4 linked regions of the Homo sapiens genome follow. The protein of the gene in region 1 purifies or fractionates together with the protein of each later gene. This does not show direct contact. Each region holds a gene or a part of one and is shown in the gene's direction. Other genes may lie near its edges. The genes, in order: HLX, TLE4, SEPHS1 and CEP120.

Evidence for each region.
Region 2: the proteins of HLX (region 1) and TLE4 purify together in Homo sapiens (affinity purification with mass spectrometry; 2 studies listed by BioGRID and IntAct, with this or other methods). This does not show direct contact.
Region 3: the proteins of HLX (region 1) and SEPHS1 purify together in Homo sapiens (affinity purification with mass spectrometry; 2 studies listed by BioGRID and IntAct, with this or other methods). This does not show direct contact.
Region 4: the proteins of HLX (region 1) and CEP120 purify together in Homo sapiens (affinity purification with mass spectrometry; 2 studies listed by BioGRID and IntAct, with this or other methods). This does not show direct contact.

Annotation. Positions count from the first base shown.
Region 1 is NC_000001.11:220,875,348-220,882,461, forward strand, and holds the start of HLX (H2.0-like homeobox protein), read left to right. Parts: upstream 1-4,095; 5' UTR 4,096-4,510; coding exon 4,511-5,102; intron 5,103-5,846; coding exon 5,847-6,026; intron 6,027-6,816; coding exon 6,817-7,001; intron 7,002-7,114. UniProt on the Homo sapiens protein: Transcription factor required for TBX21/T-bet-dependent maturation of Th1 cells as well as maintenance of Th1-specific gene expression. Involved in embryogenesis and hematopoiesis.
Region 2 is NC_000009.12:79,714,941-79,721,966, forward strand, and holds part of TLE4 (transducin-like enhancer protein 4), read left to right. Parts: intron 1-372; coding exon of another isoform or gene 373-541; exon of another isoform or gene 542-2,198; intron 2,199-3,056; coding exon of another isoform or gene 3,057-3,131; intron 3,132-3,781; coding exon 3,782-4,031; intron 4,032-4,632; coding exon of another isoform or gene 4,633-4,698; exon of another isoform or gene 4,699-4,784; intron 4,785-5,105; coding exon 5,106-5,353; intron 5,354-6,800; coding exon 6,801-6,948; intron 6,949-7,026. UniProt on the Homo sapiens protein: Transcriptional corepressor that binds to a number of transcription factors. Inhibits the transcriptional activation mediated by PAX5, and by CTNNB1 and TCF family members in Wnt signaling.
Region 3 is NC_000010.11:13,331,282-13,338,307, reverse strand, and holds part of SEPHS1 (selenide, water dikinase 1), read left to right. Parts: intron 1-1,957; coding exon 1,958-2,065; intron 2,066-4,336; coding exon 4,337-4,491; intron 4,492-7,026. UniProt on the Homo sapiens protein: Synthesizes selenophosphate from selenide and ATP.
Region 4 is NC_000005.10:123,378,404-123,385,429, reverse strand, and holds part of CEP120 (centrosomal protein of 120 kDa), read left to right. Parts: intron 1-296; coding exon 297-479; intron 480-2,347; coding exon 2,348-2,444; intron 2,445-2,540; coding exon 2,541-2,693; intron 2,694-3,229; coding exon 3,230-3,319; intron 3,320-7,001; coding exon 7,002-7,026. UniProt on the Homo sapiens protein: Plays a role in the microtubule-dependent coupling of the nucleus and the centrosome.

The DNA of each region.
Region 1 (7,114 bases):
CTGTCTGAAACTTTGGAGCAAGACCTATGGATAAAGTTCAAGGGCAGGGCCACAGCCAAATAGAGAGCTGGCCACCTGCAAATCTGCCACATCTGGGAAATGGAGAAAAGGAAAAAGAATAAATCAAATAGCTATGGATGTTTGTAGCCCTATTGCATTATTTGCTTTTCCCACCCCATAGCAAAGTCCAATTCTTCTCAAAAACTCAGAAATTCTGGAATAACTCTAAGGTCTCCAAGGAAAGAGAGTTGTGTCCTACTTAGAATAGGCCAAAGTATGCGTGTGTGGGTAGGGGGTGTGTCTATGGGGGATCATTAGAGTCCTAATCTCTAGTATCTGGCACCCACAAAGAACAGAACTCCCATATCCACCACTAAGTATGACTGCTGGGACCAGTGATCCATAAGTCTCCAGCTGGCAGAAAGACAGGCACAATATACACAGATTCCTACGTTGCTGCAAATTTCTTGAATTCTCAAGTAGCTGGATAAGCTGTGTTTCTTTTTCTTTCTGATTGTAAATATTTAATTATTTACATCTCTTTTCTTGAAGCCAGTAGGTACCATGTTTGCAAGAATATTTGAAATTAAGAGGAGAGGGGTTCCGAAGTCCACAGAGCAACTGCCTTGCACATTATTTTACCCAGAATGCACAAGAAAAAGCAACACAGATAGCAGATATAGCCAGTTCAAGTCCTTGAAGAGTTATGGTCCTGTAATATACAAGGCCCAGCATTCACTATAATTGACCTGTGCTCAGTGTGGATCTGTGACTCTGGTTTTGGGACAAAAGTCTGCACTGATGATTTAAATATGGAGGCTCCAAAGACAGGTAGAACCAAAGGATGGTGAAACCCATCTCTTGCCTCAGTCATTGCATAAGCCCCTGATTCAGGACCCTTTTAAACCCTAAATCCCCATAAGCTATATTGTTAAATTATAAAACGAACCTTCTCTGATCTTATCCATTCCCAATATGGTGAAATCGTCTTTGGCTGTGTTTAACTAGGAAAAGTGAAGGGATGAGTTGAAAGCATTAAAAACAGCAGTCAGCATGATCAGAAACCCCAGCCAATGCGATATTTTCCAAAGAAAAGAGGCCACAGTTAGGGTCTCCGCTGCGTAGACCAAGCTCAAGTTAATTCGGTTTAGCCAGGCCCTTTTCTTTCCTGTTAAATTCTCAACCCCCATGGCTACCAGCCCCTGGGGAGCCCTCGCCTCTACCCCCAGGACCTCCCTGCCCGGCTCAGTAGCTCTGGGCCAGTTCATTTCGCCACAGCCCGGAGCCTCTCGGAAAGCAAAGATTAAAGGGGAAAGTCGCAGCTGTATATTTATATTTTCATTGCTAGAAGGGAATTGATTTCCGTGCATTTATTTTGGTAGTTGTAATACATAAGGGCGGATTTGCGTCACCCGAGCAACTTGCCGGTGGAGATAAAGTTGCACAAATATTGAAAGGGGAAGTGCTAGGAGTCATTATAGAGTTTTTCTCCGGAAGAAATAAGGATTTCTGCAGTATCCTAAAATACTAAGGCCGCTTCTATTTTGAGACCAATCTCGCAGGCACATCCGCTCATTTAGTCCCGAGTTTGAGCCCATCAAAAAACAGGAGATGACCTGAACTCCGGCGAGCCCAGGGTTTCCTGCTGCTTTCTTGGTTCTGAAGAGTGGGGAGTAAGGAGGGCGGGAGTCTGCGGGCTCAGAACTCGGCGAGGGGCCTGCAGGGGCCAGGCTTGGGCCTGGGGAAGGGGTAGAGGGGGCGGCGGGGGTCGCTCCAAAGACTTGTATTTCGCGTTTGCCTCCGGGAGCTGGGAGTAAGGCCTTGGATGGCGCCGACGCGGTTGCGAGGAAGCTGAGGCCTGGGAGAGCAAGGGGCGCGCAGGCGAAGTTGCAACTTGCACTCCAGCCGCGGGCCTGGCGGAGAAAGGGAGGCTCGCGGCGCCGCGAGGAGTCGGCGGGCCTCGGGGCCTCGCTTTCGCCGCATCTGCCCAGCGCTCCGGGCCTTGAATCTCGGCAGATGCGAGTTGTGGGCACCTAGGGAACCCTGAGGACTCGCATTCCCCCGGGTCTGTATCCCGTGCCCACCCCGGAGCGTCGCAAACCTTGGAAAGGGTGAAAGCTGATAGGGGAGTCTTATTTCTTAAGAGAGAGGGTGAGGGCGCGCGGCGCTGCCTCGGGTAAGGAGTAAATGCACCTCTTTCACAACCGTGAGTTTGGGCTTAGGCTGAGGTCTAAATGTTTGCAGTCAAATTAGAAACGCAATCAAACTGGAAGTGGCACTAGAAAGCAGAGGGCTCACGGCCTCCGCTACGCACACTCCCACCGAAGGCTCACCAGAACCCTCAGCCAGCGCCTCAATTGCCCATGTTGTACTTGTCGCTCCTTTGCCTTCACCTTGACACAGAAAAACTGGTCTTAATACGTCTCTCGCCCCAGGTACCCCTACCTTCAGCCAAACACACCCATCTATCTCTGGAAATAGCACCTCTCTCCTGGTTGCGTGGAGCAGGGGAAGAAAACCTTTCAGTAAAAGAGAGATGGAGAGCGAGAGCGGGAGAGCTGGAGGGCGGGAGGAGGGAGAGAGAGAGGGAGAGGGAGAGATCTTAGTGCTGGCTGATCAGAAGTGATTGATAATTTTCCAGGAGAAAGTCAAAAGCTTAAAAGGATAGCATCTGCATCAAGGGGCTAGAGAAAACACCAGAAATTAATTTTATAAGCCCAAACCCTGAACTCGAGATAGGCATGGCAAGTTCACTTGCTTTTCTGGGTTTATTTGGTGAGGAGCCTTCGTGCTGAAGGGAAATAAAAATGTCACAGAATCCCTGTTAGGAGATGCTTATTAGGGCAATCGAAAACAAAAGTTTTCGTGGTTTCATTATTCGTATTATTTTATTTTCTTCCTGAAAATGTGCAAGAACAGCTCATCTGGGTGGCCTGTGGTTTGTTTGGGAGAGGGGTGGGGAAATTCATTCTGACTATAATTTAAAGAGAAGAAATTCTTAAAATAGATATGTCGATGTTGCACAAAACCTCCACCACCACTACCCTGCGTTCTAAAGACCCAAGGCACGAATGGAAGACGTTGACCACCACGCAGCTCCTCCTGCAACCAGGCCCAAGGGGTTCCTGGGGAAGCTGTCACAGAATTGAAAGCAGTATTGAACCCCACGGAAATCTGCTCTTGTGGGCACTTGCAAAACAACGAACCCCACGTGATCCGGAGATGTGGTGGAGGGGTGAGGCTAACATTTCCTACAACCTCCTGCAAAGGATGGAAGCGCGTGCCGCTCTCCCGGGTTTCGGGAGGCAGCCTGTTTTGTAGCCTCTGAGGCTCCGGGGAAAGGTTTGGCTGCGTCTAAGAGAGACGTTTGGAGCCATCCGTCTTATTTTGTTTGAAAAGTCACTCGTTCAATTTGTCACTGTGTGACAGCTCAGAATAAAACCAATTTGCGGCCGCCCCTCCTCCTCGCTTCCCGGAGGATCTCCTGGGAGGCACGAGGCGGACGCGGTGCTGAGTTGGGCCGGGACTCAGGGCGGCAACATTTGGGCAAGGGCCCAGGAAAGATGAGGGGCTTTGCCGAGGACACGGACTCCTGGAATAAAAGCAGAATGAGGTCAAGAGAAGGGAAGCAAAGGGGCCAAAGCGCGCTCCGCTCTCCACCGGGAGGCGGGCTTTGCAGAGCCCTAAAGAGTGAGATTACCGTCCCTTCCCCACGCCCCCAACTCGCCCCGGGTGACAAGCGCTTCAGGAAAGCTCCTGTGATCAACCCTCCTTGCCCCGTGGCGGTTCGGAGCTGCAGAAGTTAGAAGAGAGTCAGAGCCCTCCGGAGCGGCTGCCTGGCCCCTACGCAGAGTAGCAAGAAGCACTGCGATGTGCGCTACTAAGCCCACGCGGCCGCAGCAAAAACTTTGGCGTGGCCGGGGCGTGGCTAGGGTCCGGCCAGGCCCCCTTGTTCCTAATTCCCCTCCACTCCCCGCTCCCATTGGTCACGAGGATGACCAATGAGCGCTCGGATCGAGGTCCTACCCCGGGCCTGACTCGAAAGCTCCTGCCAAAACTTTGGGAGTTTTTAGAGACGAGTTTTTTTTTTTTTCTATTACTTTTCCCCCCCCCTAACTAACGGACTATTATTGTTGTTGTTTTAAATTTAGCTCTTAGGGCTTAGCTATTTGGGTTTTCTTGCGGTGTCCGGCTCCCGTCTCCCTGGCTCCCCCGCCCGCCCTGCGGCCCCAGCGCCCCTCGCTCTCATCCAGCCCGCGAGGAGTGCGGGCGCCGCGCCGCCTTTAAAGCGAGGCCAGGGAGCGAGGCGGTGACCGGCCGAGATCCGGCCCTCGCCTCCTCCCTCGGTGGCGCTAGGGCTCCCGGCCTCTCTTCCTCAGTGCGGGCGGAGAAGCGAAAGCGGATCGTCCTCGGCTGCCGCCGCCTTCTCCGGGACTCGCGCGCCCCTCCCCGCGCGCCCACCCACCCAGTCCGGCTGGACTGCGGCAGCCGCGCGGCTCACCCCGGCAGGATGTTCGCAGCCGGGCTGGCTCCCTTCTACGCCTCCAACTTCAGCCTCTGGTCGGCCGCTTACTGCTCCTCGGCCGGCCCAGGCGGCTGCTCCTTCCCCTTGGACCCCGCCGCCGTCAAAAAGCCCTCCTTCTGCATCGCAGACATTCTGCACGCCGGCGTGGGGGATCTGGGGGCGGCCCCGGAGGGCCTGGCAGGGGCCTCGGCCGCCGCCCTCACCGCGCACTTGGGCTCGGTTCACCCGCACGCCTCTTTCCAAGCGGCGGCCAGATCCCCGCTTCGACCCACCCCAGTGGTGGCGCCCTCCGAAGTCCCGGCTGGCTTCCCGCAGCGGCTGTCTCCGCTCTCAGCCGCCTACCACCACCATCACCCGCAACAACAACAGCAGCAGCAACAGCCGCAGCAGCAACAGCCTCCGCCTCCGCCCCGGGCTGGCGCCCTGCAGCCCCCGGCCTCGGGGACGCGAGTGGTTCCGAACCCCCACCACAGTGGCTCTGCCCCGGCCCCCTCCAGCAAAGACCTCAAATTTGGAATTGACCGCATTTTATCTGCAGAATTTGACCCAAAAGTCAAAGAAGGCAACACGCTGAGAGGTAGGTCTTGGGCGGGAGGCTGCAGGCCTCTGACCACTGACCCACTCCCCGGACCCCGGGCTGGCTTGGGGTGCCTTTGAGTGTTTTTACAATTAAGGACAAATCGGTAAAACGGGAGAGAAGAAAACGAATTGTAAGAAAACTACAAAACATTAGGTCTAAAACTCACCTGTTCTATGTAAAACAAACAAAAAATGACTCCAGGGATTCTTTAAAAACACGTCTTAGAATCAATATTTATAAAAGTGGTTGGTGTAATTATCTGCTAACATGACTTTGATCTCTTTAATAATGTATCTAGAGACAGAATTATATTTTCTGACAGCTAAAGCATTTTTGGGAAACACTTTCGCACTTATCTGATTTCTAGTAAAAATTTCACCCAGGAAATGTAAATAATAAACAAAACCGCCTAGATGAGCGGGCAGAGTGGGGCCACCTTGGGGCGGAGGTTTTGCGTCTGTGGCGTTCTTGGAAGACACGTGAAAGTGAGGCCGTAAGCCGATTTATGTAAAGCCTTTACTTACTATATACATGCATATGGACGTGAGGGACACACAGGAACTTTTCGTGCGTCGCTCCTTGGCAACTGTTGGGAGAGAGAGGTTTCAGCGCCTAGACGGGTTCTCTCTTGACTTCGCTCAATAAAAGTGAATCCAGGGCAAGGGGAAGGGGAGGAACAAATCAGCGGAGAGTGTGAGTGTGCCCGAGATGTAACCTGCTATCCTTTTCCCTTGTCCCCAGATCTCACTTCCCTGCTAACCGGTGGGCGGCCCGCCGGGGTGCACCTCTCAGGCCTGCAGCCCTCGGCCGGCCAGTTCTTCGCATCTCTAGATCCCATTAACGAGGCTTCTGCAATCCTGAGTCCCTTAAACTCGAACCCAAGAAATTCAGTTCAGCATCAGTTCCAAGACACGTTTCCAGGTACGGAAAAACTCCAGAGTACTGCCTAACGGGCGAGCCGACTAACAGTCAGAAATCTCAGGACTGACGCCTCCAGGGCTGCCACGGTGTCGCAATCTCACAATTGGGGCGGGAGGCTACGGAGTCAGGAGAGAGAAACCGAAAGATTTCTCAGCGAGCTAGCGCTCGCTTCGGATGGTTCCCCTTGAAAAGGGGTAGAGGCGCCTGGAGATCCCAGAAAGTGTGTGCGTGGACGGTGGGGTGGGGGGCTTTCTCGAAGTCTTTTCGCCCCAGAGGGCTTGAAAAATGCAGCATCAATGTTGCTTATTAGCATATACACATTTTGGGATGACCTCAAACACTTGTGCTTGGCGAGTTTATGTCTGGGTGCCTGGACACATGCGGGAATAAACACACACACACACACACACACACACACACACACACACACACACACACACGAGATAATTCAATTCAGGGCTGTCATCATTCAGGCCCAAGGGACATTTTTGTCTACTCTTCGTAGGCCTGATGGCCACGCATGAGGTTTATGTTTTTCTCTTGGAATTAAAGGACAAGCCGCCAGGCTTCTCCACTCCACGCTCGCTTTAGGTCTTCCGACTGTCGTGTAAAATTCCTCCTTAGAGGGGCCATTCGGTGTATGTGCGAAGGGCTTTCTGAATGAGGGTGGAATCGACAGTTAACACGAAACAGTTTCAAGCCTTACGGGGACCCCCAGGCTGGCAGGTCAAGGACTGGACACTGAACGGCCCTCTTGTCTTTCTTCCCTCTGGCTCCCGTTCTGCGGCAGGTCCCTATGCTGTGCTCACGAAGGACACCATGCCGCAGACGTACAAAAGGAAGCGTTCATGGTCGCGCGCTGTGTTCTCCAACCTGCAGAGGAAAGGCCTGGAGAAAAGGTTTGAGATTCAGAAGTACGTGACCAAGCCGGACCGAAAGCAGCTGGCGGCGATGCTGGGCCTCACGGACGCACAGGTAAGGCAGTTCTGGCTCCAGCGCACAGCGCCCTCGGGCGGGCAGCAGCGCACGGCCTAGTCTGGTAGGTCCCCTCCATCCCGGCCGACTGGCCTCCTGCGGTGCAAACGCAA
Region 2 (7,026 bases), on another chromosome or scaffold:
ATAAGTATGTACTAGAGCTTTATTATTTCCAGTTCTGAGTGCCTTCTATGTATACTAATAGCAAACAGAGGGCCACATTAATGTCATTAATGAAAGCAGGCTCTTGGAATTCATTTGGACTCTTTGAAAGGACTCTTGCCAGGAACATAGTAGGTGCTCACAGAGTGGTTGTTGTTGAGGTGAAGGCTGTCCTGTTGAAGGCCTTGAAGGAAATTGTGTGCCTGGTTTCTTAACTATTTGAAATCTCAGTGCTCTTTAATAACCATTTAGTGATTCTAGACTAGAGAATGAGATGGCTTTTCTAATAAATTATCATTAAGAATGTATAACACCATCTAAACTTGGAATAATCTTTCTTTCTCTTCCTTTAAGATTTAGTCTTCATGACCTCCTAATTGCTAAATCAATTAGCCTTTTTCTCGGCCATCATCCCTCAGAACCTCAGCCTTTCACAAGCGTTACTGCCACCTTCTCCTTGTCTGAACTGAAATCTGGCCGTCTCCTGAGATCATCCCTTCACTTGCAGCCCTATACAGGGTGACCTTTCCATTTCATTCACTGACCTCAGCACCAGCGGTGGGGTTAATAACAGCTGTGGTTGCCACCCCTTCTCCAGCCTCTCCATGAACAGAACTTTTCTACCTGTTGGTGAAAACCTTGCTCCTTTCAGGCTCGTGCCATTGGACTACCCCCTCTTCCACCTTGTTGGGAGTATTTCCCCAGTGTATTAAAGACTTGATACATGGCTGAGAGTCTTCCACTACCCAGAGGCTGCCATAATCCTGGTTGACTCTGGTATCTACAAAGACAACCCCCCAGTATCTTCATCATGGTCTTGGACCCCCTCATCTCTAGTGAACATCTGCCCTCCTCACCTTCAGTTACCTGTATTTACAGGTTCACAAAGAAGAGCTTATCATCACCCCTGTGTCACCTCCAGATTCTAAGCGTCCCATCCAGTACAACCTACTGTGGCTCCAGTCAGCCAGAGTGCTCCACGTTCTATTTCCAACTTACCACTATCTCCCAGGCTCTAGCCACTGCTTCTCCTCTAGATTACTGTGTAGTCCCCAGACTAGTTGTCTTTCGTTTTGCCACCTACACTCCATTCTTCACCCAGCAATCAGAAGATCATTTGAAGACGTTAACTGAATCATGTCACTTTTTTTGCACAAGTCTCCAGAATCATATCTGTACTCATCACAGCCTATATGGCCCTTTTTAGTTTGGCCTTGCCTGTCCCTTCACTCTTATATCCTATATGCTCTCCACCGAATGCACTCTGGCCTCCTTGCTTCGTTCTGGTCTCAAGGCCTTTGCATTTGTTGTTCCCTCTGCCTGGCACGTTCCCCATTACTTATTTGTAAGGCCTGTGTCATTCCTTCAGCTCTCCGCGCATATGCTGCCTCTTCAGAGAGGGCCACCTGACTGCCACTGTGTGCTCCCCTACTCTCTTTTATCTGAAAATGTGTGTGTATATTTAATGGTATTTTCCACTGTCTGAGGTGTTTATCAGGTATTTATGTTTATCTGTTACCTGTTTTCCTCTCTAGGATGTAGACTAGTGGAAGGATAGGGACTTTGTCAGTATTGTTCACCTGATTCCCCAGCACCTGATGGTAACTGGAACATACGAGGCATTTAGGAAGTATTTGCTGAATAAATGAATAATTAGCACGCTTTCTTGCTCTGGCCTTCGAATTTGCCATATTCCTAATCATCATACTGTCTTCAGACAATTCGTACCCATTCTTTATGTTGCAGCCCTATTGCCATTTTCTCTGTCCTTTTCACTCTGTTAAATTCCTAGACTACCATGCATTGTTCACTGCACTGACCATCTGACATTTTGATAGTTACTTATGTGCATATCTCACTAATGAATGTGCCCCTCAGGCTGTAATTTCAGGAGAACAAGGTGTGTGCATTTCTTTCTTATTCCATTCTTACCATAATGCTTGGCACACTGGCATACTCAAGAAATATGTGTTAAGTGAATGAATCTTAGTAAATTGTCATGTGATTGAACATCTTCTCCCCCTTTCTATTTTATTATCTCTGCTAATAATCTACTTCCATAACTACTCTGGCCGGAGATTCCTTAAATGTCCACATTCTTTGGGATTCTGTATCTGGTCTGCTTTTCACTGCATAATCTGCTCTGGGATTCTTCTTTCCGTCCCCTTAGCTTCAGCCATCACTTCTTTATGGATGATATCTAACCTGACCTCTCTCCTGAATCACAGCTGTTTGGATTTCTGCCCTGAAGTTCAAGAAAACCAATTCCTTCACCTCCCCATAGGTGTACCCTTGAGTTATGCTTTCCTGTCATCTTTACTAGGTAATGCAGTCTACCTAGTCACCCAGGTTCTTAGCCCTAGGGTCCTCTTCAGCATCTCTCTCTCAGGTCACACATCCAGTGTATCTCCAAGTCCTGTTGATTTGATGCAAGAAATGTCTTCTGTCCATTGGCTTCCTAGCTTCCCACCTCCTTCCCCTCCAGCAAGTCTCACATACTATGTTCTTCTACAACGCTCTGTAGTCTGTGGAGGAAGTAAAAGCCCGCCACTGTCTAGTGCCCTCATCTTCCACAGCCACAATGCATGCGTCATTTTTTCTGGGAGCATTCAGGTAGTTGAGGACCATTCAATAATGGACTGAATTTTGATGAACATGGCCAGCCTGTAAATTTTTGCATTAAGGAACGATAAACTGTTTTAATTTAATTCTACAACTTCCGCAGTTTGGTCCAGCTTCCTGTCCTTTACGCACCCACAATGCTTTCCCTTGGTATGTCTTTTGTAAACTATTTTCTGTAAGCAGAGCAGATTCCCAAGCTCCGTGCCCAAGTAGAGTAGCATCTTTTCCAAAATGGGCTGTTGCCTATGATAGTCCCCAAGATAGGCCCAGCTGCCTCCTGCCTGCCACTGGCGTCTTCTGCTTCCAGAAACCTAACATGCGTCACAACAGCCTCACTCGTCCCTTCCTGACTTCAGTGCCCTAAAAATAAAAATGAGTCTGTTGGGGGAGACGCTCTTACTTAAGTTGCATTTTAGGACCAAATGCTTTTACCACCTGAGGGCTTTCCCTGGAAATGAACTGGAGATGGAACTGCCAAGAGATACTCACAGGTAGGCCTTTGGGGCTGTCAGGATGCCTTTTTAGGTTCTCATTCCATTTGGATTGACTAGGATTTGTGATTGTCAAGTCTGATCAAGGTTTTAAAATAGGGCTTTATCTTTTTTTTTTTGGCACATCTGTCATTTCAACGTCTAAGCCTAGAGGCTCTTAACTCCTTAAAGCTTCCTGATTTTGGCCTACTCATCTCCCTTAGTAAGTCCCTTGCCGGGAATGAATTGATCTATAGGCGAGGTCTCATCACAGGCCTCTGATTCATCCAAAGGAGAAGGCAATGCAGGTTTATAGGGCATCCCTGAAAGGTGGCTACTGCACTTGACGGTGGTTATCTCATTTAATTCTGTGAGGTATAGGTAGTGTTCTCTTCATTTTAGAGACTAGAACTGCTGTTCTAGTTTAGAGATTCTAAGTAACTACTGATGTCCCACAGCAGCTTGTACAGAGTCAGCCTGAGATCTGGCCCTGTAGCAGCCTAGCTGTATGATTCTGGAAATTATGTTCTTTACACTGTATGGACAAATTCGATTTGTTCGTAAATCACAAGTGGCACTGAAGGTGTTTTATTTCTCATCTCATTACACTGAACAGTTAAGTGACATTTTTTTACATTCCCCTCTTTCTTTTTTCCTCTCCATTGCCTTAGAGCATACTCCTTCCATGTTAGCGCAGATGGTCAGATGCAGCCTGTCCCTTTTCCACCCGACGCCCTCATCGGACCTGGAATCCCCCGGCATGCTCGCCAGATCAACACCCTCAACCACGGGGAGGTGGTGTGCGCGGTGACCATCAGCAACCCCACGAGACACGTGTACACGGGTGGGAAGGGCTGCGTCAAGGTCTGGGACATCAGCCACCCAGGCAATAAGAGTCCTGTCTCCCAGCTCGACTGTCTGGTGAGTGAACATGGATGAACAAGACTTAGACTTTCATTCAGAAAACAGGAGGGGCTGATGAGAGAACTGTATGTATGAGCAACACCACACAGTATTGATCCCAGGTGGATAGTTGCTCTTCAGGGGACTGCGATCTTTCACTTGGAGGTGTGTCTTTTGCTTCCTAGACACACAGTGATCTAGTTCTTCATGTGTGGCATGTGCACCATACTGATTTCATTAACTCTGCCTCCCATGGGAAAAGGCAAACCGCTTGTTTTCCTCTCTGATGGTTAAGCAAACTAAGAGCCCATACAGTGACTATGAGTGTGCACCTAAATATCATCTGTCACATGTAAAGAGTAACTTACTGCCTCATGTGGCAAATACTAGATAGCCCCTCAGCTGCTTCATTGGCCTTTTCCCTTGAGTTCCTTAGGAAATGTCAGTTTAGTAGAATTTTTGCTATAGCATGAGGCTACATCAGTTGAACATAATTAAATATACATAAGATTCCCGTAACCTCATGAGCTAGGAGGAACTTTTTTTTTCTGTAACTTAACACTCCATGATCAAGTCTTGCCTCTGGTGCAGCTTTCATCAAATGCATGATGCCCTTTAGTCACGTAATGCAGGCCCAGGCAAAAGGAACAGACTGCCAGGGATCTACCCCCTGAAACTTTCTTGACATCAGTAGCAGGACCTTTCAACAGCAGAACTGAGCCTGAGTCTACCAAGGTTCCAAGTTTGGATACTCCAAGACTGTGAGAGCTCCTGCATTAGTGTACGTGTGTATCTGTGTGTGCAAATGATGCAAGCAGTTGGTTAATTTGGTGGTGGTGGGAGTGGGTCTAGAGCTTTGCATTTTGATGCTAATTAAGATTAAATATCTCAGTACTACATTTTGTAGATCAACTTTAAGTACTTCCCTAATTTCATGTAATTTTCTAGCATTAATCCACTTTATCATTGTCATAAGTATAAACGGCTCATTAAACCAGGAGGGAACACAATACTTTTATGGATTTCTGCTCTCATGTTAATGCTGTTTTCCTTTCCTCATGAGTAATCTCTTGATGGTTTTTGTCTCTACAGAACAGGGATAACTACATCCGTTCCTGCAGATTGCTCCCTGATGGTCGCACCCTAATTGTTGGAGGGGAAGCCAGTACTTTGTCCATTTGGGACCTGGCGGCTCCAACCCCACGCATCAAGGCAGAGCTGACATCCTCGGCCCCCGCCTGCTATGCCCTGGCCATCAGCCCCGATTCCAAGGTCTGCTTCTCATGCTGCAGCGACGGCAACATCGCTGTGTGGGATCTGCACAACCAGACCTTGGTGAGGTAGGTTAGCAGGATCTGTTACCAGGTTGTGAGGAGGAGCCGATTTTACCATATTTTGCCAAAGTGCTGTGTATATAGGTATGGGTGTGTGTGTGTGTGTGTGTGTGTGTGTGTGTGTGTGTGTGTGTGTGTAAAGTGATATAATTATCTTACTAAAAATTGTTCAGAACAGGTCCATTTTAAGATGTTAAAAATAAATTATCAGTGTGAAAATCTTGTTTTCTGTAGTACTTGAACTTCATAAAATGAGGTCTTTTTTCCTTCCTTGACTTATACTAAAGCATCGCCAATTTGTTTTAATAAAATGAGGTCAATTTGACATAATTAATGTACATAAAGTTTCCATGACCCCATGAGCTCCATGGACATCTGTAATTTGCCATCTGTGCTTGCTAACAAACGATTATTGTTGATAGAGCCTCACTGAGAAGATTCACAGTGTATGGTACTGTCTTGAGTGCCATACACATCTAACAGGTTCATTCCTTCAGCAGATATTTAGCAACTCCCATGGGCCTATGCACTGTATTGGGTGCAACTCACTCTGAAATGGTCTAGATTATCTGTTGTCCCACCTTTGAGGTTGGATAGATATAACTTTACAAATGAGATTATAAAAGATTGGTGTTGGTAGATGGGAAAAGCTCTGAAATGATTTTCTAGGTGTCAATACCCTAAGAGATTAGCAAGCAAGTAGAATGATCAGCTACAGGTATGAAAAGGTTGTAACCAGAGGTAGCTACAAGTCAGGTGTGTAAAAGAAGAAGGCTTTACTATCTGTTATTTCAAAGTACTGAAACCTATAGATCCCAAAACAAATCATCACTTTCATTGCTTATCAGGCAGCCTCTTATGAGAAGCTGCTTCTAACCCTGTTTTCTCCTGGTGACCTTGGTACGTTTTGCCATGAGTGATTCCTGGGCCAGTAGTTCACACTGAGTGTCTTTCCAGGTGCCTTACTTGAGAGCCTCGCCTTCCGTCTTGCACAGCCACCCACAGACACATTGCTGCTCACTGGCAGGACTGGTCCTGTCGCTCCCTGTGCCATCCCCAGTCCTTCTTTAAAGGGAAAATTAAATTCTCTCTCCCTCATACCACAGTAATAGAATAGGTCTCAGAATATATCTTTAGTTAGTGCATATATGTGTAGGCGTGTTTTCTTTTGTTAATTTCAGAGATTTTTTTCCCATTAGTAATATCAGTCATGTTTTCATGAAAAAGTAATTTGAGGAATTCCTAAGTATTCAAAACCAAGCAAAAAGTACAGGACATGTGGCATCTCTTTGTATATGCTTTGTTATTACTTTGAATAATTAGAAACCATAATAAACCAAAATGAAATCTACAAATAAGGCCTGCATTGAAATTGAATCATCAAGGAATTCTAAATTGATTTTAACTAAAAGCTAACTTTTCAAGGGCTTTCCCTCCATTTTGACATTTTCAGGCAATTCCAGGGCCACACAGATGGAGCCAGCTGTATTGACATTTCTAATGATGGCACCAAGCTCTGGACAGGTGGTTTGGACAACACGGTCAGGTCCTGGGACCTGCGCGAGGGGCGGCAGCTGCAGCAGCACGACTTCACCTCCCAGGTATGATCCGTGGCTGAGGCATTTTAAAGATACGGTTTTAGGCTGAGGTGGGCGGATCACCAGGTCAGGGAATCGAGA
Region 3 (7,026 bases), on another chromosome or scaffold:
TAGGACTGATCCTAAATGTTTCCTTCAAGAGATTAAGGAGCTAGTATCTCATCACAATTAGATGCCTCAAACATTAATTCGGATATCTGGTTAATTCACTCAACCCAGCCACTTGCACACCCACCACCGTGTGATGTGCCGCTGTACATAGTAGGTTTCTGACCACTGAGTTAAAGTTCCTGGCTACTGATGATACACTGCTGAGGTGTGTTCCCCAGTTGTTTACTGCGTAGTTGCAGCCAGCCACCCTTTGATCCACCCAACCTTTAACCCCAATTTGCTACCACCCAGGAGGAGCCAGTGGAGAGACTAGGAAAATCTGGTTTGCTATAAAATGCCAGGTGTTCTTCGTGTGTGGCAAGGACAGTGGGATCAGGCTGCACTGTAGGGACTTTATCATGAGGCAGCCACGTGGGGGGTGTTCACCCTCAGGTACCAGTGACAAATACCAGATTATTGGAAACCTATATTTCTTCCGCACATCTGTCCGTTTTCTCCTCTGGAGCAATACTCTTGAGACTGGGCAGGTAAGCCACAGCCCAGGTCCCACATGACCAGGTGGCAGGGATGGCTAAAACCACAGTCCATTGTTTTCCAGCATCTCCTAAAATGAGAGCACCCAGAACAGAAGGGGCGCTAAATCACCACCCCCCTAACTAGCGATTGGCTTGTGCGAGTTGTAGACCACCTGTTGGCCTTGTGGACTGGCTTGATGATACTGAAAGTGTGGCCACAGATGGTTGTTGAGCTGCATTGCTGACCTCCAGGAATGTATAAGAAAGCCTAAAGCAAGCAATTAAACAGCCACTGGAAGTGATAACACTTGGGAGTTTGATTATCCTTATGTCAGAAGGAAAATTTGTATTTTCTCTTTATTGTCTATAAAAGATAAAAATTTAGATAAGGGCAACTTAACTTTTAAAAATCTCCAGTGGCAATAAAAAAATCTTCATTACCACATTTCTGTTGAATTGTATTTTAAAGTTCCTAATAAAATGACATCATTTACTGGGAAATGCTTCTTTTTCTTTTGAAAACAATATGACTTCAGCCCTGGGTATTTTTTTATTTGTTTCTTAAGATGATTTTTCTGTTTATCTCATACATCCTTGAAAAGAAGCTACAAAAATTTTTTTTGTTTTTTTTTTGTTGTTGTTTATTGACAGTCTTGCTCTGTTGCCCAGGCTAGAGTGCAGTGGCACGATCTCAGCTTACTGCAACCTCCACCTCCCAGGTTCAAGCAATTCTCATGCCTCAGGCTCCCAAGTAGCTGAGACTACAGGTGTGCACCACCATGCCCAGCTAATTTTTATATTTTTAGTAGAAACAGCATTTTACCATGTTGGCCAGGCTGGTCTTTAACTCCTGGCCTCAAGTGATCCACCTGATTCGGCCTCTCAAATTGCTGGGATTACAGGCGTGAGCTATCACACCCAGCCTAAGCTGCAAACATTTCTTAATCCAAGTGCACAAAGACTATCTCCATCTCTATAACCACTAAAGCCAGCCATTTTTAGAATCTGTTTGGGATATGTGGCTGTTTCCAACTTTTCTTTAGGAGAGTTGTTTGCAGGCTTTTTCGCTCCATAGCTCTTCCCCCAAGACTGTCGGTTCTAAACTTGCTTCTCCTCCTCATTCGCTGCACATATACCCCTTCCCCTATCTAAATAAATTGCAGACTTCTAAAATTTAGAATGGAGAAAAACTGGTACATTCTTTGTCCTGCACAAGAAAGAGGTGGTAACAGGAATGTCTGAGAAAAAACGAATGGCCTAGTGACTCTGTGATGCAGGAAAGGTTGCCAGTCTGCAAATCATAGAAACTGAGGACCCCATCCTAGTAGCTGCTACTCCTGGAAAGTCTCCACGTTCTCTGTGGAGTCCACTCCATGGCTCACTCAGTTTCTGCAGATGGAAAGTCCCCGGTCGTCCTTTCTCATGTTTCCCTCTCTTCCCAGGGCAGGATAGCGTGTGCCAATGTCCTCAGTGACCTCTATGCAATGGGGGTCACGGAATGTGACAATATGCTGATGCTCCTTGGAGTCAGTAATAAAATGACCGACAGGGTAAGTAGGAGCTACCCGGCTGCTGCCTGGTCCGTGTTGTCCCGGTGGCATCTCTGGCCTTGGTTAGACTTGGTTTCCCATCTAGAAAGCGAGGAGCCCAGGCCATATGGCTCCCTGCACTCCTTCTGGCTCTCCACTTTTTGGCAGTTACCAGTAAATTAAAATGAGGAAGCCTGGCCTAGTCATCTCTGCACTTCTGCCACCTGCTCCCTTTCTCTCTTCCCAGTAGACTGAAACCAAGACTTTTTTTTTTTTTTTTTTTGAGACAGGAGTCTCACTCTGTCGCCCAGGCTGGAGTGTAGTGGCGCAATCTCAGTCCACTGCAACCTCCGCCTCCCGGGTTCAAACAATTCTCCTGCCTCAGCCTCCCAAGTAGCTGGGATTACAGGCACGTACCACCACACCTGGCTATTTTGTGTATTTTTATTAGAGACGGGGTTTTATCACGTTGGCCAGGCTGTTCCTGAACTCCTGACCTCAGGTAATCCACCTATCTCGGCATCCCAAAGTGCTGGGATTGCAGGCGTGAAACACCGTGCCCGGCCCAAGGCATTTGTGTATATTTTTTTTTGTTTTATTGAGACAGAGTCTCACTCTGTCACCCAGGCTAGAGTGTAGTGGCACAAGCTCAGCTCACTGCAACCTCCACCTCCCAGGTTCAAGCGATTCTCCTGCCTCAGCCTCCCAAGTAGCTGGGATTACAGGGGCACACCAGCACCCCCAGCTAATTTTTATATTTTCAGTAGAGATGGGGTTTCACCATGTTGGTCAGGCTGGTCTCGAACTCCTGAGCTCGTGATCCACCCACTTCGGCCTCCCAAAGTGCTGGGATTATAGGCATGAGCCACCGTGCCCGACCTGTGCATTTTTTAAAATAAAGTTTTGGCCATAGTAATGGTGCCTCAGTGTGAATCAGGCACAGCCTTACAGATGTGGGACACGTGGCACTTAGAGGGCACTCCCTCTGCTGTGGCTGGGGATGTCGTGGACGTAGATGGTGACGGGGGATAGGGCCACCAGGGGCTCACGCCTCTGTGTCATCGCCTAGCATTCTGTGCCCTTGCTGCCTGAACCTGTTCTTTGAACCAGAGATGAATTCCTATTTAGATAGACAGGTACTTGTTTTTGTCCCAAGAGCCCCCAACAGTTTGCCCTGCCTTAGAGAAACTTGAGTTTCCAGTAGGCTCTTTCCTGCCCTTGAACATGGGCTGTAGTCATCAGTGGTGCATGGTGGTCTTGGCGCAGGCTCTGTCAGTGTGGGTTACTCGTAGCCTGCAGCCAAGCCTTGGTAGGATGGATGCCTACTGCAGGGCAGGGGACCTGTGCTTAGGAAGCCAGTCTTGAGATTCTCAAGGAGCACTGGACAGCTGGCTTCCAGCAGTCATCAGACCTAGGGCTGGTCCTGTGCACTGAGTCCAGACAATGTTGGTGTCTGGGCTTTATTTACATTGTTGTCTAGAACATCTTCCAGCATTGGATAAAATGATGACAATGTGAAATATTTTCTAGCTTTTGTTTTTGTTTGTTTTTGAGACAAGATCTCCCTGTGTTGCCCAGGTTGGAGTGCAGTGGTGTGATGAGAGCTCACTGCAGCAGCCTCAGCCTCCCGGGCTCAAGACATCCTCCCACTTCAGCCTCCGGAATAGCTGGGACCACAGGCACATGCCACCACACCAAGCAATATTTTTTTTTTTTGTTTTTGAGATGAAGTCTCACTCTTGTGCCCAGGGCTGGAGTGCAGTGATGCGATCTTGGCTAACTACAACCTCTGCCTCCCAGGTTCAAGCGATTCTCCTGCCTCAGCCTCCCAAGTAGCTGGGATTACAGGCGCATGCTACCACACCCGGCTAATTTTTGTATTTTTAGTAGAGACGGGGTTTCACCATGTTGGCCAGGCTGGTCTCAAACTCCTGACCTCAGGTGATCTGCCCGCCTCAGCCTCCCAAAGTGCTGGGAATACAGGCATGAGCCACTGTGCCCGGTCACCCAGCAATTTTTACATGTTTCGTAGAGAAAGGGGTCTGTCTGCATTGCCCAGACTGGTCTTAAACTCCTGGGCTCAAGCTCTCTGCCCACCTCGGACTCCCAAAGTGCTGGGATTACAGGCGTGAGCGATTATGCCTGGCCCCTAACAACCTTCCCTGTCTGTAAACTTTGAGGACTTCCTTTAGGATTTTATGGTTCTTTTTATAACTGTAAGTGTAAAAACCTTCTTTTCTGGGTTTTGAACAGAATTCTTTGACTTTTTATTTGTACCTTTTTCAACCTTAGGAAAGGGATAAAGTGATGCCTCTGATTATCCAAGGTTTTAAAGACGCAGCTGAGGAAGCAGGAACATCTGTAACAGGCGGCCAAACAGTACTAAACCCCTGGATTGTCCTGGGAGGAGTGGCTACCACTGTCTGCCAACCCAATGAATTTATCATGTAAGTTGATTTTTGTTTCATATCACCTGACCTGTTTTTCTCTCTCTGTCCTCTCTTTTTAAAAATTGATGTATTAAGGTCAGGTGCAGTGGCTCACACATATGATCCCAGACTTTGGTAGGCCGAGGCGGGCAGATCACCTGAGGTCAGGAGTTTGAGACCAGCCTGGCCAATGTGGCGAAACCCTGTCTCTACTAAAAATACAAAAATTAGCCAGGCATGGTGGGGCAAGCCTGTAGTTTCAGCTACTCTGGAGGCTGAGGCAGGAGAATCGCTTGAACCCCAGGGGTGGAGGTTGCAGTGAGCTGAGATCATGCCCCTGCACTCTAGCCTGGGCAACAGAACAAGATTCTGTCTCCAAAAAAAAAAAAGACAAGAACGCAAGGCTGGGCGCGGTTGCTCATGCCTGTAATCCCAGCGCTTTTGGAGGCCAAGGCGGGTGGATCACCTGAGGTTGGGAGTTTGAGACCAGCCTGACCAACATGGAGAAACCCCATCTCTACTAAAAATACACAATTAGCCAGGCATGATGGTACATGCCTGTAATCCCAGCTACTTGGGAGGCTGAGGCAGGAGAATCACTTGAACCCAGGAGGCTGCGGCTGCAGTGAGCCAAGATCGCGCCACTGCACTCCAGCCTGGGCAACAAGAGCGAAACTCCATCTCAAAAAAAAAAAAAAATAGATGTATTAAGATATAATTTGCGTACTATACCATTCACCCATTTAAAGAGTCAGTGGTTTGGAGTATACTCAGAGTTGTACAGCCATTACCGGAGTTGATGTTAGGATGTTTTCATTGCTACAGGAAGAAACCCCATCCTCCTCGGCTCTCACTGTTCACTCCTGCTCCATCCTGGATTTTGTCACTTAGCATAGTATTAGCATACTTTTAAGGGTCATCTATTTTGTAGCATGTGTCAGTATTTTAATCCTATTTTTAAGACATTTTAGGTGTTTTTGTTTTTTTTTTTTGAGACGGAGTCTTACTCCGTCGCCCAGGCTGGAGTGCAGTGGTATGATCTCGGCTCACTGCAAGCTCCATCTCCCGGGTTCATGCCATTCTCCTGCCTCAGCTTCCCGAGTAGCTGGGACTACAGGCACCTGCCACCATGCCCGGCTAATTTTTTGTATTTTTAGTAGAGATGGGGTTTCACCATGTTAGGCAGGATGGTCTCGATCTCCTGATCTCATGATCCGACCGCCTCAGCCTCCCAAAGTGCTGGGATTACAGGCGTGAGCCACCGCGCCCGGCTGACATTTTAGGTTTTTTAGTTGAAGTATAATTCACGTAACAAAATTTCACATAACATAGAATTCAGCATTTTGAAGTACACAATGTGTTGGTTTTTAGTATTGACAAGGTTGTGCACCCATCACCACTATCCAATTCCAGAATGTTTTCATCACCCCAAAAAGAAGCCCTGTAGCTCACTCCCATTTCCCTCCTGCTCCCATCCTCTGGCAACCAAGAATGTGCTTTTGTCTCTAAGGATTTGCCTGTTCTGGACATTGTATAGAAATGGAATCGTGCAGCATGACATGCTGTGTCTGGCTTCACTCCCATAGCGGAATGTTTTCCGGGTCCATCCGTGTTGTAGCATGAATCGGTATCGCATTCCTTTCCATGGCTGTATAATCCATTGCATGGATGGACCCTGCTTTATTTAGCCATTCCTCAGGTGACGGACCTTTGGGTTGTTTCCACCTATTAGGAATGATGCTGCCATGAACATTCTAAGTTTTTGTGTGGACATAAGTTCCGGTCTCTTGGGTGTATACCTAAGAATTGACTGGGTCATGTGGTAATTATGTTTAACTTGAGGAATCATCAGACTGGTCTCCAACATGGCTGCGCCATTTTACGTTCCCAGCAGCAATGTATGAGGATTCCAATTTCTCTATGACCCCTCCAGTACTTGTTTTCCTGTCTGTCTTTTGGATTCTAGCCAGCCTACTGGGTGTGAAGTGGAATGTCTTTGTGGTTTTGATTTGTGTCTGCCTGATGACTGATGAGGCCGAGCATCTTTTCATGTGCTTACTACCCATTTGTGTATCTTCTTTGGAGAAGTTTCTCTCCTAACCAAGTTGTCACTTTCCATGTTTGATGTCTTGTTAAGAAAAGTCAGTCTTTTGGCCGGGCGTGGTGGCTCATGCCTGTAATCCCAGCACTTTGGGAAGCCAAGACGGGTGGATCATCTGAGGTCAGGAGTTCAAGACCACCCTGGCCAACATGGTGAAACCCTGTCTCTACTAAAAATACAAAAAATTAGCCGGGCACGATGGCAGGCGCCTGTAATCCCAGCTACTCAGGAGACTGAGGAGAGTGGTTTGAACCCAGGAGGCGGAGGTTGCAGTGAGCCAAGATCGTGCCACTGTACTCCAGCCTGGGTGACAGAGTGAAACTCAGTTTCAAAAAAAAAAGATCTAGAATTAGAAATACCATTTGACCCAGCAATCCCATTACTGGGTATATACCCAAAGGATTATAAATCATGCTGCTGTAAAGACGCATGCACACATATGTTTATTGCAG
Region 4 (7,026 bases), on another chromosome or scaffold:
ATACTGTAGGCAGTTGGACAAAGGTAAGTATTTGTGTATCTAAACAGAAAAGATACAGTAAAAATATGATATAATTTTATGGGACCATCATTGTATGTGAGGTTCATCATTGATGGAAACATCATTTCATATTTGGTGCCTGTGAAATTTAGCATTCAGTCTAACAATTGTGTTAGACGACATTCCAGGTAACAAAAAACATCTTTGACTCCATTGAGGGAATTCAAAGAATTTAGTTCAGAAAAGACTTTAGGTCAGAGTTGATAGGTATGAACACATGTTTCTCTCTTCCTTAGGATTCCATTACTGGTTGAACTATGGCACAAGGATAAAATGAGTAAAGATTTACTTCTGGGAATTGCGAGAATCCAGCTTTCTAACATCTTGTCTTCAGAAAAAACTCGTTTTTTAGGTTCTAATGGTGAACAGTGTTGGCGTCAAACTTACAGTGAAAGTGTGCCTGTTATAGCAGCACAAGGGTAATGCATTTCACAGAATTGGTATTTGCTTTTCTTTTCAATTCATGGAATGATTTTGATTAGTCAGCCACCACTTCACCCTTCCATAACCTCTTTTTTCTGATCCACCACTTCACCCTTTCATAACCTCCTTTTTCTGATCTTCTCTGACCTGTGGCAGCTATACCCCACTTTGCCCTTTAGCTTTCTGATACTGATTTCACCTCACAGAAGTCAAGAGTCTGTGTTACCATGGTATTGTAATATTCAGATGGCTAATTATTTTCCTTCCTCTCTCTAGCTTGAGAATTTTAAATGCAGGATCTATTTTTTTATTTTGTAATTTGAGGTTAAACTTTATAATGTATTTTATATTATTTTGCACTGGGAATGGCTAAGACTGTTTTTCCACTTAAAATATTTTACTCCTACCCCAAATCAAAAGTCTGAGGACATTATAGATATTTGGCAGTCAGAGGCAGTTTTTAAAATAATTATTGGTTTTTTGCCCTGAACTTCATTGCCACAAAGAAAAACTTGCGTTTTTTTAACATATTTTAAATACAGTAAAATATTTGTTGAATTATCCTTTCAAAATTAACAATAAAAATTTAAAATTTAACTTAACATTATATATCATATGCCCTTTATCATTAAAGATAAGACTAAAAAAAAGAGAAACAAGGCTCAGTGAAATTTTAGCTCTAAAAGTATTGAAATGTCTTTCCTTATTCCTCACCATTCATGGCCATTTTGTTTCAACTCCTATTATTGAAGAATCTTTCTTAAAAATTAGCATTTTTTTGTCGTAAGTAGAAGATAATAAAATCACTAATAATTGAAGCTATTTTAATGCTGCCCGTTTGTTATGAATATTAACTTTTATTGCCATACTTTGTAGACAGAAAGTTTTAGGAGATTTACTTAAGTGAGAACCTTAGATACTCTCAGGAGTTTCTGTCAGATACAGTAGTGCTTCATTTAACTTTATTCATTTCTTCTGAAATCTGTGAGATTAGAAGAAGAAAATACAAAAGTTGGTTAATTAAGAGTTCTAATTGTGTGAGAACCATTCATTCAAGTTTTGTTTGACCAGAGTATATTTGATTTAGACAAAACCATGGTTTTGTATTACTAGCATTTTATTTTCTTCTAATATTTTATCTTGTTCTCATTTGGTTAATGACAAATGCTGCATGCAGTTGTATGATACAAAGAGGTGCTCATTATGCTCATACTAACATATAATTATCCTAGAAGCATTGCTTATGTGCCAATTAGGCCTAGAGGCATTGCTTATGTCTAGTAAAATATTTATGAGTATGTACATCCCAGGAAAAGTAGAAAAAAGAATTCAGAATAACCAATATAATCAAGAGTAGGGGAATTGTTAAGTATATTTTACTACATAAATTCATTTGTATATTTTACAGGCAGTAAAAAAAAAATCACATTTTTAAATTAATGTTATGATGTGAGAAAATGCCCCTGATGTAAATAGGAAAACAAGACAAAACTGTATGAAGTCAGCATGCATGTGTGCATGTATATCTATATATAAATAAAACAGGAGGGAAATAAACTACATATTAGCAATAATTACCTGTGGGCAGTAAGATTTTAAATTTCACCTTTATACCTTTTAAAGCTCTCATAGGGGTCATTTTGTAGTAAATGTATGCGTGTATTTAGCAGGGTGTTTGTGATGATCAATTTATATATATATGGAAGGTGTTGAAGCCTACAGAAGTTGCTGCAGTTTCAAAAACAATAGAGTTAGGAGCAGAAAATGTTGCTTACTTCCCATTGCTAAAGCACTGGGGAAATAAAAGGAAAAATAATATAAAGTATTTCTGTGAATTTTAAGGTATTTCTTATTTTATTTGTAGATCAAATAACAGGATAGCAGATCTTTCTTACACAGTGACTCTAGAAGATTATGGACTAGTAAAAATGCGTGAGATTTTTATCTCTGATTCATCTCAGGTAAATATAATTGAATGTTATCAAATTTTTTTTAAAAGGAATCTAATGTGCATATGTGTGTGAGTGTTTAAATGTACTTTTTGGTTCATCTCTTAGGGTGTATCTGCCGTACAGCAAAAGCCGTCTTCTCTTCCTCCAGCACCTTGTCCTTCAGAGATCCAGACAGAGCCTCGTGAAACGTTAGAATACAAAGCAGCACTTGAGCTAGAAATGTGGAAGGAGATGCAAGAAGATATATTTGAAAATCAGGTTACTTTTTAAATGTTACTTTAAAAAATCTGCTTTGTCTGCTCTGTATATTTTTCCTTCTCCGTAGCAAGGTTTAATCTCTATGTTCTGTAGGTACCTTATCTAACTTCTTTGAATGTCAACAATGCTTTACTTAAAAAAATTTGAGAATCAAAAAATACCTGAAATGTGGCACCTTGGCAGAAGCCACTCAGAATTCTGTAAACTTTGTTCATGATTATTGGGTAAAATTGGGAAGTTACTCTTTAAATTTCATGTCCTCATTTGGCATGCCCTCCTGGAACCTTGCATCATTAGTCTCCAAACAAGAGTTAGAAAGCACAACCCACTGTTAGTTTTATAGTTTCCTGAAGTGAACTCAAATGGGCATTATTTGCCTCAGGCATCCTCCTTTTTTTTTTTTTTTTTTTTAGAATAAAAAAGAATGCCTGAAAAAATCATATTAGTGATCAGCATCGGTTATTTAACTGACAACTGATTCATTTATTTGACATATTTGGGGTTTTTTGGCGACTTTATTTTTCTTCCTTTTGTAGCTGAAGCAGAAAGAACTGGCTCATATGCAGGCTCTTGCAGAGGAATGGAAGAAAAGGGACCGAGAAAGAGAATCACTAGTAAAGAAAAAGGTAATAACTTGTGTAAAAGTGAGGAAGAGAAGGAAGAATATTAATGATAATATCTTGTATTTGCGTTAAAGACAGTCTCTGGAAGGAATAACTAATTTTAGTGGTGATATGTTGGCATGGAAGAAGTGAGTGGTGGCTCTGGATAGAGAAGGGAGGCGTTTCACTGTAAAGTATTTTGTGCTTTTGGAATATGCAAATGTATTACCTATTCAAAAAATATATAATATAGGCCAGGTATGGTTGCTCACACCTGTAATCCCAGCACTGAGGGAGGATTGCTTGAGGCCAGGAGGTTGAGACCAGCCTGGACAACATAGTGAGACCCCCATCTCTTAAAAAAAAATATGTGTGTGTGTATATGAATATACAAAAATGAATAGAGAAAAACCCTGCTGATGTATAAAAAAGAAATAAAAGCACATTTCAATATATATAAAACTACATATTATAATCTGTAAGTTAATAGAATGCCTCAAACGTTTAAGCTATTTTTAAGAATTATGAAATAAATTACATTTTTAAAAATGATAACATGAGACCATCTGATTTTATTCCTGAAGCAAAAGCTTAATATTTATCCATTTACACTGAAGTTATTAAATAAAACAACCCTAACAGACTTTCTTCAAATATTCTATTAATAATTTTAGGACTTTAGAAATACTCTTATTAGTGGTTAATCAGTATTCAGCTTCAGATTTGAGGGGATGGCTCTACAGGGCTCCAGTGCTCCTTCTCTCTATAACCCCCTCCTCTCATCAACTCTAGTTGCCTCAGCCTCTCTGGTCTCCATTCCGTTTTCTCAGCTCAGCAAGATTGCTAGTGTCTGTTTGGGTTCCCCTTCCTTGAGCTACTACAGTCTTCAGGCAGTAAGCTAGATATATTGTAGTGGTTGCCTCATTTATTTCTCACCTTTTAGGGATCATTGTCCTGTGCTGCCTGTTGCCCAATGTCTAAAAACAGTTGTTTCATAAATGTTGTTTAAGTTGTGTTTATAAAGGAGGGCCATTTGTCTTTTATGGGTGGAAACAGAAGTACACAGGCCTTTGATTTTAAAATAACCAAATCAGCTTTTTCTAACTTAATTCTCACCATTAAAAACTTGAATAACCAGTGAACTTTTAAAAAAGCTGAAAGACAAAAATAAGAGTATTTCAAAGTCTCTATTCTTTAGAAACGTTCAGATAACCAAAATTACAATAATTAGAAGCCCTGACATACATTTTAACATTATGCGAGTTATCCTGTTATTAAGTGAGTTTCATATTAAGTAATATTTACAGACCTCACCTATTAGATATTCATTGAATCTGGGGGAGCTGGAAAATACCATTTTAATTTTTAAAATTTTTAACCTAGCCTTTAAGACAAGATGAGTTTATCCTTGAATCATTTCTCTTCATTGTGTTGAAGAGTATTTTAGTATTGAGGTCTGCAAAATTCAAATCGGGAAATACTTGAAAAGTTAATAAAATTACTAGAACCGTGACAAATTCACTTTGTGCCATAATTAAACTTTCTGTGAAAACTCACCAAGTAATTTTTGGTTTGTTGTCATTTTGGTAATAATGATCTTTTCAGCTAAAATTTGTAATTGGTTTCCATTTATACACTTCTACCCTTTCAGCCTGAAATGATGAGTTCCTGGCTAGTTAATAACTCCAGTCAGAAAACAATATGATGCCTACATAATAAGTGTTTGTGCTGTTTATTCAAATTAGTCATATGATAAAGGTAGATCTGAGATTGAGATTTGCCATTTTCTTTCAACCTAAGTGCATTTTTGAGACCAAATACTTTAATTCATTTGTCTTAAAGTATCCTGTCTTGCATGGGATCAGTTTTTCTTTTAAATTTTATCAACCACTACAAAATCAAGTCAGTAGTGAGAAAAAAAAGTTGTTTTTCAGTATGATGAAATATTTTAAAGCTAAATACCCTGAGACTCTCACTATAGTATTTTTTAAATGTCAATTATATGTGAGCCTTTTCGTTTATTTACCTGATTTGTCTTAAAAAACGATGTATAACTTCTTTCACACTTTGAAAATTTACCTGAAGGAGTAGATATATACGTGGTTCTTGTTCTGCCCTCTGGAGCAACTGAGATATACTCTGTCTTACATATGACTGCCTGTCAGATAGCTGAAGATAGTCATTACCCACAGAGAAGGAAGACATCAGTTCTACATAAGGAAGTGTTCTGTAGATAAGATCATGCTTTCACTTTGGTGAAGATTAGTGGATATTGCCAGGTAGACTCAAAGGGTATTCCGGACACAGCCCCTTGAGGAAAAGGCAAAGAAGTTTGAAATACACTCTGCATTAAGAAAATTATATGTAGTTTGATGTTGGAAGAGGGGAGGAAAGAGTGTGCCTCAAGAAATAAGGTAAGAGAGGTTGATACCCTGGAGAATAAATGATCTCGTAAATCCATTATGTAGAGTTTAGACTAGATACTGTAGGCTTTTCTTAGCCAGGCCTTCCTGAGAGAATGAAGCCCTTAATACCCTAAGTGATCCATTATTGGTAATAAATTAACTTTATCCTATGCATCTAAAATGGTAGTTATGTACCATTTTAGGAGAGGATGGAGAAAATAATTAAATCATTTTCTGTGTTTTGTGGTTCAGATGATAAACCCTGGTTGAGAACGGTAGAAATATCAGAAATTTTTTAAATGAAGATTTTTATATAAAATAATTAGGTTTTCATTCTATAACAATAATTCTGATGGAGGTACAGTGGCTAGAATAGAGGAATGTGAAACTAAAGTCCAGGAGACCAGGAAAGCAATATGTATAAAAAACGAAAGCCAAAAACTAATAGTAGTGAAAGGTTATGGAGAAAAGATGGGTGGTAAAGAGATGATTTTAAGGAGGTTTAGGACCTCAAGCGCTAAGACGTCCTCACGGCTGCTCACAATCCTACTGCTTTCCCTAGTCAATTCATTTTCTCACTCGCCAGAACAGTTAGTTTTTGTCTTAACAAACAATCCTTCCTCATCCTTACCCGGTTTATCTCTGTCTTTGAAACACTTCCTCTATTTGGCTTCTTTGACTATATTTTTTTTTTGGACTACACTTTTCTACTGTTGTGTTCCGCTGTCTTCACTGGTCTCTCTTTCCTAATTTTCATGCTAGATTCTCCTCATGTTGGCTTTATTGGCTTGTCCCACAGCCCAGTCCTCAAATACCATCCTTTCTTCTCTCTGTATACTCACTCCTTGGATGATGTCATTCACTCTCTTGGCATTATATACACCAAGACACCCACCACACGCACCCCCATCCCTGACTTCTTCCCTGGACTCCACACTTGGCTATTTAGTTGCTTACACTACATATGCGTTTCAAATTTAGCAGTCTTTTGTTTCCATCCTCTGTAAATTTAGATTAAGTCTAACATACTAGAGGATGTGGAAATCATAATATGTGAATAACAGTTAAAATTTGTGTTTATCTTGGAGAAGAAAAAAGACCAAGAGGAGGAAATATGACCATCACCAGTCTCAAATTCATAAAAGCACATTTTTTTCTTTGAATTGGCGGATGTAATTTGTGACTTTCCTATTCTTAGGTCCTCTGTTTCAGTGAAATGATGTGTATTTTTGAATTTGTGTGTGTTTTAAGTTTGGGAGAAGGTAGGTAACTTTTTTTTTTTTTTTTTTACTATATTTTAGGTGGCTGAATATACTATTCTAGAAG